Linked DNA regions of Homo sapiens: region 2 is linked to region 1. Evidence: fine-mapped expression QTL. Tissue or cell type: prefrontal cortex. Region 1 holds a variant in brackets; the other region holds the start of a gene. All regions are shown on one strand. Distances are between the middles of the regions.

Region 1 (8,187 bases):
GGACAAAAAATGGTCTCACTCATAGGTGGGAACTGAACCATGAGAACACACGGACACAGGAAGGGGAACATCACACACCAGGGCCTGTTGTGGAATGGGGGGAGGGGGGAGGGATAGCATTAGGAGACATACCTAATGTTAAATGACGAGTTAATGGGTGCAGCACACCAACATGGCACATGTATACATATGTAACGAACCTGCACATTGTGCACAAGTACCCTAAAACTTAAAGTATACTGAAAAAAAAAAAAATCCCAGCATCACGCAGTACCTCAAAGCAAATTGCAAACAATGTCATTCGCTGAGCTCCGGGTATCCTGTCTCTGAAACGATGCCACTGTGTAAGAAAAACAGCCCATGTTTGGATCCCTATTAAACCAATTCTGGGCTCTGTAACTGATACAGGTTTTAAACTCCCATGGGCTTCAAAAATCAGGGGACTGAATTAAAATTTTTTCACAAAGTCCCTATAAGTCCCTTATAGATCCAACTCTAGGATCTATAATCCCCATACACAAAAGAGAACATGTTATAGGAGAAGAAAACAGTTACCAGCAGGTCATTCCAAAACATGCTGGAAGAAACTAAATAAAGCAAAAAATCTTGATTTTTGATTTTGTTTCTATGACTTCTCATTTTTTTCCATTTTGTGACTAAACTGTGGTTTAAGTAGTTAAGCCAAATGAATAGAAGCGAAACCAATATACTACACACCAGCAGCATTCTTATTTTTGTGGAGAAAGAAAACAAATATGTGCTATTTGATCGTGTAAGAAAGATAAATCTACCAAGCTTCCACAGACAAAGCCCATTAAATCAATAGGGGTCTGCCCAGTGCCCAGGGAAACCCATCAAGAGCAGCCAAATTATTTCGTTTTTTTTTTTAAAAAAGCTATCAACTTAACATTACAAATCATTTGCTGTTCTCAAGAGAATTGCCTAGTATTGCAAAACTTGATAATTACTGATTCATGACTGATTTAGGAAAAACATCGGCTTAAGTAATCAGGCCAGAGTACTGCTGCTGACCGCAAGGCTGGCAGGAAACCTAGCTTTTCTTTCATGAATGTTTAACATTTTACAAAATTTAGCTTTTAGCATATCACCACTGGTTTGATTTTTCAAAAACCTGGGAATACAGAACATACCAGTTATGTATTATCAAGCACCTATCTTTTCTCTAACTTTTCTTCAAGTATCACTAACCAGAAACGCAGTGAATTATGAGAAAGTGATTCAGAAATCAGACTTGACATGGACTGTTTGCTATAAAATGGTAGATCTTAGACTCTTTGAAAGAACTCTACAGACACTATAAACTGACAGTACATTCTGTATAAAATAGCAGGAAGAATTTAATTAATGTTCTGAGCCAATCCTACACACCACAGGCTACACATGCCTACATTAGGGCAATACACAAATCTCTCATGTAAGCTTTGCTAAAGAGTCACTTCATGTGGCCAGCAGATAACAAGCATATCAGAAAATGTTCATCTGTACATGCCCTTGGGAAGATATTTTCCATAAGGATACGTGAATATCGTATCTCCATAAAGAAAACTATTCTCTCTCTGTTGGAATTGTTTTTCTGCTTAAAATTAAGCAATTAAGAATGTTTTCTTATTCTGCAGAGGAATCACAGAGAAATGCTATCCCACAGATTCAGAAACTGCCTCTAAACCATAATAAATTTTCTTTTCAGATCTTTTCTTTTTTCTTTAAGATTCTGCTTTCAAGTAAACATGCTTTTGTTAGTAAAAGCCAGATTCTTGTCAACTTAGTTTCTAACAGAAACTCTCTTTCTCTCTCTCTCTCTCTCTATATATAATAATTTTATGTATTTTGTAATATATAGAGAGATATATATTATAAAAATATACAAATTGTAGGTCTCGTCACTAAGAACACCTACATCATCAATGTTCTTGCAGGAAGAAAGGCAAGTATTTAAAGAACAGAAAATTAAAGTAAGCATTTAAGGGCGGTGGTAAAACAAGTACTTACAAACTGCTGATGTGCAATTTGGTATAGAACCCCATATAAGCAAATTGACAATATATATTAAGATGTAAAATGGTTATACCCCAGATCCAAAAATTCCACTTTGAGGGAGATATTATTTTAAATACAATTACAATAGGAAAAATTTTGTGCACAAAGATATTTACTGCAGCATTATTTTTAATAGAAAAACAGAAACAGCATATATGTTGAACAGCAGGAAAATGATTAAGGAAAAAATTATATAATCTCTCAATAGATTACTATGTAGCCATGAGAAATACCTATGAACATTGGTAATAACATAAAAATGCTTATAATATTAAAAAACAGAAAATAAGCCAATATTATAGATACACATACATATATAAAAATGCTTGCTTATAAAAATGAAAGAAAACCCTTCATGTAAAAAAAAAAGATGAAAGGAAATATTGGATGCTTTTTTCTCTTCTTTCTTTTTCTGTATTTTCTAAATTTTCTTCAATAAGCTCCTTAAGGAAACATTTTGAATAAAACAAGAGGAATTCTAAACAGACATGGATTAGAACTGATGCTTAATATTCCTAACCAAAATTATATTAGGTCTGAGAGAGGGCAAATGTGAAGAAATTTTTGTGGCATTACTGTTTACTGAATTAATTCATAATTAATTCATTCAATGAATAGTTATATAAATTGTCTGAGGGAGAGAGGGAGGGAATCATAGAAGTCATTGCTAACCCAAGAAAATCATCTAGTCCACATTACGCAGCAGCAGGAAGAATGAACCCTAGGGGGACTGAAATGTAATTTAAGAATTGAAATAATATAGCAGCAGAGAAGTCATATGAAGAGAAACTTCGGACAAGGCAGAGAAGATCGGAAATATTAGTACTGCAGAGATGCACTGAGGTCAAGGAAAACAAGGAGAAACAAAAAGGCACAGGAGTTAACAAGTTAAAGACTACTTGGGAAACTAAAGCTAGAAATCAAGTCCTGGAGGGTGAGTGGTGAGGAATTGGAGGCAGTGGGTGCAGATTAGACCCAGGGTCATTTGCTTTGTCCTTTGCAGAATAGGGGAGACAGGCATGAGTTTGGAAGCAAGAGGAGGGAAGAGACAGAAGATTGGAGATGTGGAAACAGCCCAGAACCATCCTGTCCCCTGCATGCCCCCGACCATCAGAGGCTGCCCATGTACCATATATGGCTGTTCCTGACACGGAAGTGCACCTCAGCTGGCTCTAAACATCTTTGAGACTTTATCTCTAAACCATGCCTCACCACAAGTCGTCTCTCCTAATCAAGCCATTCTTGTGCTACTCCCCTCATGCACTCACATGGCCTTCTCTACCTCTGGGAATGTTCCTTCTCTGCCCCTTTCTCACGTTCTCATTTCCTGCTACCCTTCACTGTCAGGTTCCAGGGCTCATCCATGGTCCTTGTATTAATCTTCTAGGGCTGCCATAACAAAATACCACAGCCCGGGTGGCTTAAAACAACAGACATATTGACATATTCTCTCACAATTCTGGAGGCTAAAAGTCTAAAATCAAGGGTTGGCAGAACCATGCTGTCTCGGAAGGCCATAAGGAGGGTCCTTCCTTGTCTTCTCTTACCTTTTTGGAGGTCCTGGAAATCCTTTGTGTTCCTTAGTTTATACATGCGTTACTCAAATCTCTGCTTCTGTCTTCACATGGCTTTCTCCA[C/T]TGTGTGTCTGTGTCTCTGTTTTCTCTTCTCACAAGGACACTAGGCATTGGATTAGGGCCCACCCTAATCCAATATGACCTGATTTTAACTTAACTAATTACAACTGCAGAGACCCAATTCCAAATAAGGTGACAGGATATGAGGGCGATATGGCTGCAACATCTGTCACTCCATTGATCACCAGGGTTGATTCGGCTGATCTGGCTGGCTAGGCAGGTGTCCTCTTCCTCCCTCACTGCTCCATGTGCATCCCTCCAGAAGCTGCGCACTCGGGGGAAGAAGGTGACCATCTGGATAGAGGAGGACCAGTCTTTGGTCAAGGATATACAAGTAGCTGCACTCCCCTGCTAGAACCTCCAAACAATCCCAAATAAGGTAAGAATCTTAGGTTCTGGGTAGACATGAAATCCCGGGGCGGTGAAGGGAGGGGACTCTTCAACTCAGTACAGTCCTCATCCAGTCCCAGAGAGTGGCCATTCCACTGTGGTCTCATCTGCTCCCAGTCCATCTATTCTCTGCTTGTTACTGTGAAATCTGTATCCCTGGCCTTAAGCTCAATGCCACTCTTTAGAGCTATGCTTCCCACTGCCCGCTGGACAAATCCACAGGCCCTTTAAACAAAACAGCCACTTCCAAAAGAGAGTCCAAATCCCATCATGGCTCCTGTGTTTTCTATTTTATTTCATAACAAATCTATCTGGCCTCCCAAGTTAAGAAGCATTAGCATTATCTTCAACTTTCTCTTCTTCCTAATCCCCTCCCACCACATCTGATCAAAAAAATAGTCCCTGTGGAATCTATCTCACAAACCTCACTCAAATTTGACCTCTTCTTTCTACTTCCATTGCTAAGGCCTTAGTTTGCTCTCAGCCCTTCCTTAGACTATATAGGCAACACAAAGGCTCAATTCAGTAAAATATAGCACACCTATGTGCTAGGTGCTGGGCATACCAAGAGGAATTCAACACAATCTTGCCCTTGTGTAGCCCTCAACCTCTTATCTGGTCTCCCTGCCACTAGGCTTAAATGCATTTTCTTGTCAGAAAACAAATCTTATAATGGCATGTTGTGGCTTCCAATTCTCTTTTCACTCTCTTTTTCCTAGAAGGTGAAATGCAAATCCTCCCGTAGTCATGGAAGATGTTTCACAGTCTGCTTCCCCCTGTGCCGCACCCTTCACATCCAGCACTTCATCTCTGCCATGGTGGGCTTCTCATTCGTTCCAGATTTATTCCTGGGAGCAGTGTTTTCTTTTATCCAAAGAGGCTTTTCTCCCTTCTGTGCCCTGGGAAGCTCCTACCTACCTTTAAAGTGCCGCCCAAATGACCTGTCCTTTCTTACCTCTTATCAGAATCCAACAGGGTTCCTCCACACTCTGTGCCCCTACAAGACTTTGTTCAAATCCCTGTATAATCACATTTGCCACATTGTTGAAATTTATCTTTTTCACTGTCTGTCTCCATCGCTAGACCAGGAGCTCACAGAGGACCAGTACCAGGCAGCACTCATGTATCTCAGTCTGAATGAATGGAATTATGAATGCACCCTGCTCTCTTTGTCTTAATCCTACCCAAGGTTCCAGGCCTGGCTCAGTCCCGAGCCCCTTCCCTGGACTTTCTCAGCCACTCACTCCAGGCTATGAGTGTCTCCCTTCTCTGAAATGACCACAGTACTGACTCTCTGTATCACCAGCTTGGTGCTTATAACATGGTACTTTGTGCAATTGAATGTCCCAGTCTTCCCTTTTGATGCACTTCAAAGTTTCTTTTCCAAACTTAGTCCAATAATTTGCACCATAGTAGATGCTCTGTAAATATCTGCTAATTGGTTATTCAGTTTGGGGATGAGGGGGTGGAGTCCTAAAGAAAATGAGAAAGAGTGAGTTCCAGGACAGGTGGTAGTTTTGGCTATAGAATAGGTAGAGTATATTTTCTCCCATGAAACTAAAAGGAGGGGAAGAAAAACATAGGAAAATTATAGAGGAGAATACAAAGGTCCTAATTAGGACAGCCTTGGTCTTATTTTTAAAATAAGCATGGAAAAATAATATGCTGATTTAAGTATGCTACATGAATCTTAAATACAGCCAAATAAAAACAAATCAACATTTACCATCTACAGCTAGAGAAAGAGAAGGCAAGAGTGCAGGTAATTTATCTAAAATGGAACACATCATGTACACACTTTATGTAAACTTGCCTCTACATGATTATTGGAAAGGATGTGAGTAAAAGAACTGTAAAGTGTAGGCAGTTCTGCCGTCTATTCCACTGAAGGAGCATTCACTCCCCACGTGCCCCTTGTAGTCTAAGCAGCTCCAGATGCTGATAAAGCCAAGCCCACTTCTTTAGTGATCTGTGTCTACAGCAAAGGAAACACTAACTGTACAGCACTTGCTGAGAGAGAGTGTGTTAGTATCTAATGTAGCACATATTTGTGATGGGATATACTAAAATTTATGAGCAGTTTAATAGGCTTTCAAGGATATTGACTTTGCATAATTTTCATATTGTATATTGACTTTAGTACCAAACCCCTAAGTAAGATGTGACTCCACTGTGTAAGTCAACTGGCCTATACTGATAGGTAACCTGCATTAAGAACTCTTATAGTATTTGCTATTTATACTACTCATTTTGGCATTTAGTTGTATGTTTAATTGCTGGAAGTTCAGGTGTAAATATGATTATGTTATCTAGACTGTAAGTTCATGTTATCTAGACTGTAAGTTGGTGACTGTAACCACATCATAAGCTTTTATACCCCACAGTGTGTATGGCACAATGCCAAGGACCAAACAAAAGTTCTTAATTACTGAAAGGCCATTTTATCAATGTCACTTTCTCTCTAATCAAACTCTGAATCTAAAAAAATAACTAAACATGTCTTATATTCTCTGTTATGCTTTCTAGGGTCCATTTTTAAGGAAGAGGCCCTTGTTTAACTCAAAGTTACTTCTTAAATTTTAAATAATTGGCTGTTAACATATTTGATTAGGAAGGCATGAAGAAGTTCAGTACAAAGGGTAATTTAAAAAGTTATTGTCATCAGCATTTTTCTAGAAAGATAATAAAAATCACTTGGGAAACAAGCCTGCCTTTATTGGTGGCCTGGGAAGAAACATCAAATCAAGCTAAGACCCACCCACTCCTTTAGAGAAAATATAAAACAAGAGAGTAAAATCTCCATGGAATAATCAACAAAATATAGATATTTGAGAAGATGAATCAGGATTTCTTCAGGTTTAAATAAATTATCATGTATCATCTCTAATTTAAAAACAACATTTTTAAAGTAAAATGAGCCTTTCATTGCTGATTCCTAGCATACTATTTCCTTAAATCCTTTCATTTCATTAATATAGCTCAGTTCACAGTGCAGCAGGGACCAGATGAAGATTGAGCAATTACTGAATGTCATGGGATTATAAAGATAAGCTATTTGGATAATTTAAGCTAAAAAAATAACTCTTCTTTATCTCCAGGGTGGGTTTGGGAACTTTGGTTATTCACTGAATTTGGCCAGCCTACATTTTATATTACCAGAGAAAACATTCTAAATGTGCTTCCAACATTAGAAAATTATTTCTGTTTTCAACATGTTCTGTGATAAAGAGATGTAAGATTAAATACCATCCCAGTTAAAAGTAAGTTTGCTGCCATTTTTACTATATTGGTCAGCTAGCTTTTTTTAACTCTTAAGTCAAAGTTTGGGGCATTAAAACAAATAAATTCACTGTTTTTTCAAGCATAAATGATATGCAATAAGCCTCAGAGAACAGAGGTTACTCACTCTGGTTGTGTTTTACTTTCTTGCAAACACATACTCATGCTCAATTGAACTGCCTCCAAGTGATTTTTAAGTATTAAAGGTGAACACAGCCCTCATTTTTCAGGGATATTTTGGGCAGCTGTTGTAAAAAAAAACAAACCTGATGTTAAATTAAAAAGTTAAAAGGCACTAATCAAGAAATTACCCAAAGTTTAAGCTCACATAAAAACAAACAAAAATGAATGATGTGTAACATTGAACAGGAAAAACATTTAGAACCCTTGACAACGGGTTCAAATTTCCTGACCTGCTGGACAAACTCCCCTTTCCACATCTTTCCTAGATTCCATCAGATCCTGTTTTTCTCTCTATAATAAACTGTCATTTATCTAGAATGCAATCAACCAGAAAGTTAAAATAAACAGGGTGGTGTTTTCCTACGCTCCCTTTTCCGTTAATTTGCAGGTGTTTATTGAATGCCTACTATGTTCCCAACACTGTGTTGGACACTGGGCATATGAAAGATGTTGCAACTGTTGCTTAGAATTCTAGAATTCTCAGAATTCTTAGAATTCTCTTTAATGAGGAAAGAATAACAAGCAAACAAGCTTTCAGAAACGTAGTCCATAAAGCAACTTCTAATATGTCTGTAAAAGCAATCCTGTTTCCATCCAACCTCTAACTGCCTTGTTCACCTATAATTACCAGGCTAAGCAATAA
Region 2 (8,187 bases), 29 kb after region 1:
AACAAGGTTGTAAACAAGGAGACCAATTAGGAGGATGTTGCAATAATACAGTTGGAAAATGGTGGTGGCTTAGACCAGAGTGGTTGCAAAAGAGGTGATGAGAAGTGGTTCCATTCTGGATATATCATGAAGGTGAAGCCAACAGAATTTCCTGAAGGATAGAATGCAGGATATCTCAGAAAAAGAGAAATCAAGGATGACTCCATGGTCCTGAATCTGAGCAAATAGAAAGATGAAACTGCTTTAACTGAGATGGTGAAGGTGGGTGGAGTAGGTTGGGGGATGATAACAGCAGTTGTGTTCAGTTTGAAACATCCATTAGATGTCCAAATGAAGATAGCAAGTTGGCAGCTGGATATATAGGAACAGTTCCAGGCTGGAGATATAAATTTGAGAGTTTTCACCCCATTTTTCTGGAAAAGTGGCTGGGAACAGGTAGAAAGAGTTTAAGAGAAACAGGAAAAACCATGTGCACAGATCTTCTTACTGTACAAAAAGTAAAGATCCATTTAAAAAAAATCTGGAGGTCATTAATGACTTGGGGGAAAACACTAGAATTTTGATAGTAAAAATATTTGATACAATTACCAAAACTCTGTATACTCAAGTAAGGTTTAGGGAGGGTTGTACACCTCCCCTCTGATCTTGTCCAATACTGTGTGGCTTGCTACCAAACTGGCAATGTCTAGGTAACCCACACTGGATACCCCAGAGATAAAGAGAGCAGCTTCCACCTGATAACCTCCCTCTCCTGCAGTCGCTACCACCCTCCCACCTTGAGTCAGCAGGAAAGGAAAGGAGCTTTTCCTCTCCTCCTGAGCTCTGCCTCCTGCTCAAGGACAGAGTCAAAGTTTTAACCCCTTCAGTTTGTAAGTTTTCTCATTCATGAAATTGTATTTGGCCATTTGCTTCTTAGAAGACAGCTGCCTTGGAAGCAAGCTATTAGTATGACTTTAGAGTTGGAGCCTTCAGAGGTAACTGCAATTTGTGTGGTATGATTTGATAAAAACAGAAAAAAAGATTTTTCTCTCCAGATTCCTGAAATTCCACTATGAAAGGTGAAAGTGAAATGCCCAACTTTGAATGAGCAGTATTGGAGATTTCACTAAGTCAATAAGTGAAGAAAAGAGAAGCTATAGATGAAAAAAGAAACCCATAAAAAGGGAGACTTTTTATTATATATTGACAAATTATAGTTGTATATATTAATAGGGTACAAGGTGTTATGATTTTTTAATACAATGTGTAATAATTAAACCAAGCTAATTAATATATCCATCACCTCAAATATTTGACATTTTTTGTGATGAGAACATTTGAAATTTACTCTCTTAGTGATAATGAAATATACAGTACTCAATTATCAGCTTTATTCACGACACCGTGCAATTGAACTTTAAAAAAATCAAACTTTTCCTCTCTTTTTTTTTTAGATGGAGTCTCACTCTGTCACTCAGAGGGATGATCTCAGCTCACTGCAACCTCTGCCTTCCGGGGTTCAAGCGATCATCCTGCCTCAGCCTCCCGAGTAGCTGGGATTACAGGCACGTGTCTAATTTTTGTATTTTTAGTAGAGATGGGGTTTCTCCATGTTGGCCAGGCTGGTCTTGAACTCCTGACCTCAGGTGATCTGCCCACCTTGGCTGCCCAAAGTGCTGGGATTACAGGCATGAGCCACTGCACCCAACCCTTATTCATCCTATCTAATTGAGGCTTACACTCTTTGACTGTTATCTCTCCATTCCCTGCAACCCTAGCCTCTGGTAACCACCATTCTACTCTCTGCTTCTATGAGTTCAATTGTTTTAAGTTACTTTCAGATACTTGAGAACATGTGGTATTTGTGTTTCTACATTTGGCTTATTTCACTGTGCATAATGTTTTCCACTTCCATCCATGGTGTCACAAATGACAGAATTTCTTTTTTAAGGCTAAATAGTATTCCACACATACACACAGACACATAAAATGGAATACTATTCTCTTTTAAATTTTGTATGCCTAATAATTCATGGTTAAAGGACAAGATAATAACTATTTTTGAGTATCCCGCTGTGGAGACACGATCTCCTTTGATCCTTGCAGCAATGTGTAAGGTAAGTGGCATCATCTTCCTTCTATTAATGGTAGAACTGAAGATCAAAGAGAGTGTCTAACTTGCTTAGGGCTACATAGCCAAGTGGTGAAGCTAAACTCAGTCTAGGCTTACTTGATAGTACACTAACATTAAATGTCTAGGAGTAAATATCTAAAACAAACTGTAAGTCTTCTCTATTTACCATACAAATTATTCAAGTGAACTGCCATTTTTGCCTGGCTTGAAAGATACTTTTCAGAAGAATGGGCTCATATACACATGCACGCGCGCACACACACACACACAATGGAATACTATTTAGCCTTAAAAACGCATATATATCTAAAATATATGTGTGTACATATTTTATATATATATGTGTTTATATATATAATATATATTATATTTGTATACACACACACATATATGCCACATTTTCTTTATCCATTTATCCCTTGATGGACACTTAGGTTGATTCCATATCTTGGCAATTGTGAATAGTGCTGCAATAAACATGAAAGTACAGACGTCTCTTCAACACACTGATTTCAAATCTTCCCAGTAAATACCCAGAAATGAGATTGCTGGATCATATGATAATTCTACTTTCAGTTTTTTGAGAAACCTCCATACAATTTTCCATCATGTTTGTACTAATTTACATTCCACCAACAGCATACAAGCATTCCCTTTTCTCCATTCTTGCCAACACTTGTTATCATAAAGGGAGGTTTGAGAGACCATAAAACAAACCCCACCTCACAATTTTGTTAGTGCAAGTTCTATTTGGCCTATTCCCAACACTAAGCACACAGTAGGTGGCAAATATTTGTTGAATGGATGAATTCTCATTTTTCTCCATTTGTGGAAGCAGACACCTCCTCAAAAAAAAAAAAAAATCCGAAAGAAAAGGTAAAGGAAACAGTTCTATGAATGGGGGTTAATTTACTCTCCTAGCATTCACTTATTGGGAAAAAAAGTAACAGCAGTTTCTAGAACCCTCTGGTCTCTGAGGGAGATGCTGTGTTCCCCTCCTCAGAGAAGAAGAAAACGCACTAGAGAGTGGGAGCATCCCCAAGGCTGAAGCGCATCCAGGACATCACATGTCAACGTGTCCTCTCTGGCGTGGGGTCCCCGCGAGTCTGGGAAACGAGGAGCTGGCAAGGGAGGGCAAGCGGGGGCGGCAAAGAGGGCCCCTGGAGCAGGGGGCGCGGACCTCGCTGCGCTGCGCGCTCTACCGCCGGGCTCGCAACGCTGGGCTCAGCGCTCGCGCCTCCCTCAGCTCTCTCCTCCGCCCCCCTTCGCCCTCCCCCTTTCCCTCCCTTTCTCCTCCTCCTCCTGCCGCCGCGGCCGCTGCCGGACTTCGCCAGATCAGACCCACGGGGCTGCCCTCCCCTGCGCACTCCCCTCGCTGCCCGGGCCCGGAGCGCAGCGCGGCCGCACAGGTAGGAGCCCCCAACGGGGGGTCGCCCCGAGCGAGCCCAGTACTCACTGGGCCGCGCGCGGGAGAGTGAGGTGGGGTGAGCTGAGGGGTGTTGAGTACCCGAGAACTGCCCTGGACTGTGCAGGGTGTCTCGGGCAGAGAGGGAGGTGGAGGTGTGCAGCCTCGGAATGCGATCTGTCAGCAAGTGCGAGTACTCGGGTGACATCTGTTGGGATGGGCATGTGTGTGCGCGCCGACAACCAGCCGGCAGGGCTTTGCCCATAAACGTGGTTTTGAAAGTTTAGGGGACCAGTGTGCGAGATTTAAGCCGCACCTGGATTCCATAGGAGCTGGTTAGAAGCTGGGACGCTGAGCAGCTCCAGGGGACCGCCGCGTTAGCTTGCTGTTAAGAAAGGGGACCTCATCTCCCTGCCGGGCCAGGCCGCCCGCCCGAAACTGGTACCTTGGGCTGCGGTGCGATCCCTGGTTCCGGTCCTAGGCAGCCTGAAACCGAAGGTAGCGTGTCGGGGACCCAGACTGATAAGACAAAAGAGAATCAGTCGCTTTGGGCTGCCCCTCCACACAACCTGGGACTTTTAAACAAAGCTGTGCGCAGAGAAAGGCGTGGAAATGCCACTTTGAGAGTTTGTGCTGGGGGATGTGAGAAGCTCTGAGACATGTGAGAAGGTCTAGTATTCTACTAGAACTGGAAGATTGCTCTCCGAGTTTTGTTTTGTTATTTTGTTTAAAAAATAAAAAGCTTGAGGCCAAGGCAATTCATATTGGCTCACAGGTATTTTTGCTGTGCTGTGCAAGGAACTCTGCTAGCTCAAGGTGAGTATACTGGGAAAGCCTTAACGTTCTAGAGAACAGAGTTTTGCAGCCCCACCTCCATCCCCCGGGGTGTGGGACTGGGGGGCAGGAAATGCACCGTCCCCTTTGAAATGGATTACTGTTTTTTCCTTTCGACCCCCTCTTTCTGCAGCCTGCTTTGTAGGTGCAGTATAAAATGCACGCTGAATGTCTTTTGTATGTAAACAGCGTAGCAGGATGGAGTAACGTGAAATGCAATTCTACAGCAGTTTTTACGTCTTTGCTGCCTCGTTCGTTGGCTACCGAGAAGGTTCAGGAGGGGGAGGGGAGATGAGAAAGCAGATTGGAAGTTGAGTATGGTGGAGCCTCAGCCTCTCCCACCCTCCTTTCCTCGCTTGTGCTCACTGCTAAAGTTTTGTTACTTTCCCCGCAGCAGATACTAAACATTAGTTTGTCCTGTATTTTCTTTGAGATTCACAATGTTGAAAGCCCTTTTCCTAACTATGCTGACTCTGGCGCTGGTCAAGTCACAGGACACCGAAGAAACCATCACGTACACGGTAAGGGGTGATGGAATTTGAAATAAGTACGGTTCAGCGGGATTCTGTGACAAAAAAAGACTTTACACACCCCTGCCAGTGTATTTGGGCTATACTCTGCTGAGGGTGATAAATTAAACAACACTTCATTCATGCTTCATATCTAAGATTCGTTGTAAATTGCCCCCTTGATCCTTTCAAAAGTTCATTGGGCTCACCACCTAAGATAGGAACCAACATGTAATCATTTGTGCAGGGCTAAAAATGGGATCCGTTCAAAAACTAAAACCAAAGAAAGTTACATGTTTCCAAAACATTCAACAAATTAATGGGTGTAAGGAACTGGAAAACCTGGACTCCTACCACATGCAGATAAAACCAATACGTGCAGAATAAGACTCAAGTCAAGTAAGAACGTTAAACACCATAAAGACACATGGCCTTCTTTGTGTACATGACATGCATTCTCAAGTAAGTGGCCTTTATTGAATTTATAAAGGCTATATATTCATTCTTTTTGTATAACTTGATAATTCTAATAAATAAAGGCAGACAACAGTTTATGTGTTACCAGGATGCATATTGGCTAAAGTGGTTTTAAAACGTAATGTGTGCAACTCCGTTTTGCATTTTCTAATTAGCGTCTCTGATATTTCCAAGTAATATTTGATTAGTTAGTTGCATAGGTGTAACCAATGTTTAATAAAATATTAAAAAGATCACCTGACCCCTCCCACTGCTACAAATAGTTGTGGTGAGAACAGAGAAGGACAGTACTGACTTCACTTCTGGTGAGTTTGTTTGCACCTCTGTTCTGTGTTTTCTTGTCTTTAATCAGTGTTAGGCAAATGACATTTGTCCTGGATTGGAATATGAAAAGCACATTTTTCTACTGCTCCCAGTTTAAAATTAAGTAATCCTACTCGAAAGAATGTGAAAAATTTTTGAAAAGAAAACTCTTAAAAATGAACTAATGTCAATTACTGATAATAAACATTATCTCACTTTTTGGTACCACATTATCCCTAGAATGTTAGTATTCATCTGGCAAATGTTCCTTTCTGTTGTTCAGATCCACTATAAATAAAATAGCTTAATACAAATATTTTGTTAACTTCATGTTAAATGCAGTTGCTTCCTCTGCTGAAGATAAATTAAGCAAGAAAAATGAAGGCATGTGCTGTTTATCTTAAAATGAAAATGTTTTGTTATTCAGACTAAACTTACTGCCTTCTCAGGGAGCTAAAATTAAATTCACTACCCACTTTTATAATCATCTCATAAAAGATTTTACTTCTTTTCCAGTTGCTTATCTTCTATGCCCTTCCCTTTGCTAATCACCTAAATCTTCCTCATTTTTACCAGAGAAGGTTCCCTGTGGCTTAAACATGATAGTTTTAAGACCACTAACTAGGGTTCATTATTATTGTAACAAATTTTCCAGATATGTTACCCTTTTGTGCTAAGATTGGGCCTATTCTCCTTTAAATTTTGTATGCCTAATAATTCATGGTTAAAGGACAAGATAATAACTATTTCTGAGTATCCCGCTGTGGAGACACGATCTCCTTTGATCCTTGCGGCAATGTGTAAGGTAAGTGGCATCATCTTCCTTCCACTAATGGTAGAACTGAAGATCAGAGAGAGTGTCTAACTTGCTTAGGGCTACATAGCCAAGTGGTGAAGCTAAACTCAGTCTAGGCTTACTTAATAGTACACTGACATTAAATGTCTAGAAGTAAATACCTAAAACAAATTGCAAGTCTTCTCTATTTACCATACAAATTATTCAAGTGAACTGCCATTTTTGCCTGGCTTGAAAGATACTTTTCAGAAGAATGGGCTCGTATCCACATAATAGCCTCATAGTCCTCTTCCATATTAAAGATGGTGTCCATTCAGCTGTTTACTCAACAACTATCTGCATAAGCAATTCTCATCACTATTAAAAGAATTTGTTTGTTTACTAAGAAAATTCAGTCTCCTCTTGGAGAATTTAGCCTGGGAAGACAGTGTTGAAAACTACAAAGTTCCTAAGCAAGGACAAATGATACTATTATACAGATTATACAAATTGCCAAGGAAATAGAAAAGCAAGGAGGTGATTAATGTTGGTGCCAGCATATTAGAGGAGACAGAACTCTGTGCTGGTTCTTGAAGGAAGTGATGACCTTGGTTGGATTGATCTAGAAAGGCTGAAGAGGCACCTGAGTCAGAGAGTGGCATAATCAAAAGCTAGAGCTGAAAGCACCTGAGACCAATCCAGGTGGTGATAAGGTCAGATCAGCTGGAACTGGGTAGTGGGAAGAACCCAGAGATGGTGATGATGAGAGATCTGCAGGTCACTGTGAGGTCTCAGAGAGAGGAGCAACATAACCAAGAGCACAAGAAAGATCATGGGGTCTGTATGCAGCATGTAGAGATGCGGGGCCTTGCCTACTCATGGGCCAGCAAAAGCCTTTCTTAGTAGACATGGTAGAAATGGACACAAAGTCAGCAGAGATGGAAGGAAAATAAGTGGAGCATTCAGCACTGATGTTAAAGTTGGAATCCTGGGTTTCGAAAAAGGTAGTGGTACCTTTAACACTGTTTGGGAAACAAGAAAAAAATTAGTCTGAGAGACAAAGTGAATTTAGTTCTCGCTCCAGTAAGTTTCAGACATCAGTAAAATATCTAAATGGATCTCTGGGCTTCCATTCAGCTATTTCCTTGTCAAGCATCCATTGTGTACATAAGCAGCTCTCAGTTATATTAAAAGAATTTAAGTTTATTTGTTTGTTTACTCCACTTTTGCTCAATCCTTCCTTGGGCTTCTTCCTTACAGTGACTTTCTCAAATGAGCGTCTGATCAGATTGTTTCCTGAGCTTAAAAATTCTTCAGAGGCCTCTTATCGCCTGTAGCAACATTTCTCAAGAAGTAGTTCCTAGACAACCTGTATGGGAATCGCCTGGGATACTTGCTAAGAATTTAGATTCCAGGCCCCCTACCCAGACCTACAGAATCAAATCCTTTGGGTGGGCCCAGGAATCTTCATTTTAACAAGAACCCTGAATGATCCTTAGACACAATAAAGCTTGAGATTCACTGACCTTCAGGGTAGAATTCAGGCTTCCATTCCTAAAGAAAGGCTTTCTTGTTTTGGCCCTGCCTACCTCTGTAACCTCATCCTCCACCTACCCAGAACTCCTTGCAGCTCCTTCCCTTTTCAAAAATTTTATGCCTTTGTCACAATAGCCTCTCTTCCTAGAATTCCCACATTCACCTGGAAAAATCCTGCTCATCCTGTAAAGCCTGATTTACTGTCACCTCCTCTGTCAAGTCTTCCCTTCTGCCC

Evidence for each region. PIP is the estimated chance that this variant, and not a neighbour inherited with it, causes the effect.
Region 2: EFEMP1 starts here. The variant in region 1 is fine-mapped to the expression of EFEMP1 in prefrontal cortex (ROSMAP, PIP 0.91).

The regions. Positions count from the first base shown.
Region 1 is chr2:55,947,658-55,955,844 of GRCh38, reverse strand. LOC105374690 (a long non-coding RNA gene) reads right to left here. Exons shown (of 9, transcript XR_940109.3): 2 at 7,489-7,606; 3 at 3,606-3,986. It also overlaps the pseudogene RN7SKP208. Among named protein-coding and RNA genes, the nearest start is that of EFEMP1, 28 kb to the right of the region's middle. RefSeq lists an enhancer at 3,014-4,213. The variant C/T (reference allele first, on the strand shown) is at 3,696.
Region 2 is chr2:55,919,046-55,927,232 of GRCh38, reverse strand. EFEMP1 (EGF containing fibulin extracellular matrix protein 1) reads left to right here and starts at 3,451. Exons shown (of 12, transcript NM_001039348.3): 1 at 3,451-3,522; 2 at 4,294-4,334; 3 at 4,786-4,873. The coding sequence starts at 4,793. RefSeq lists an enhancer at 3,392-3,891.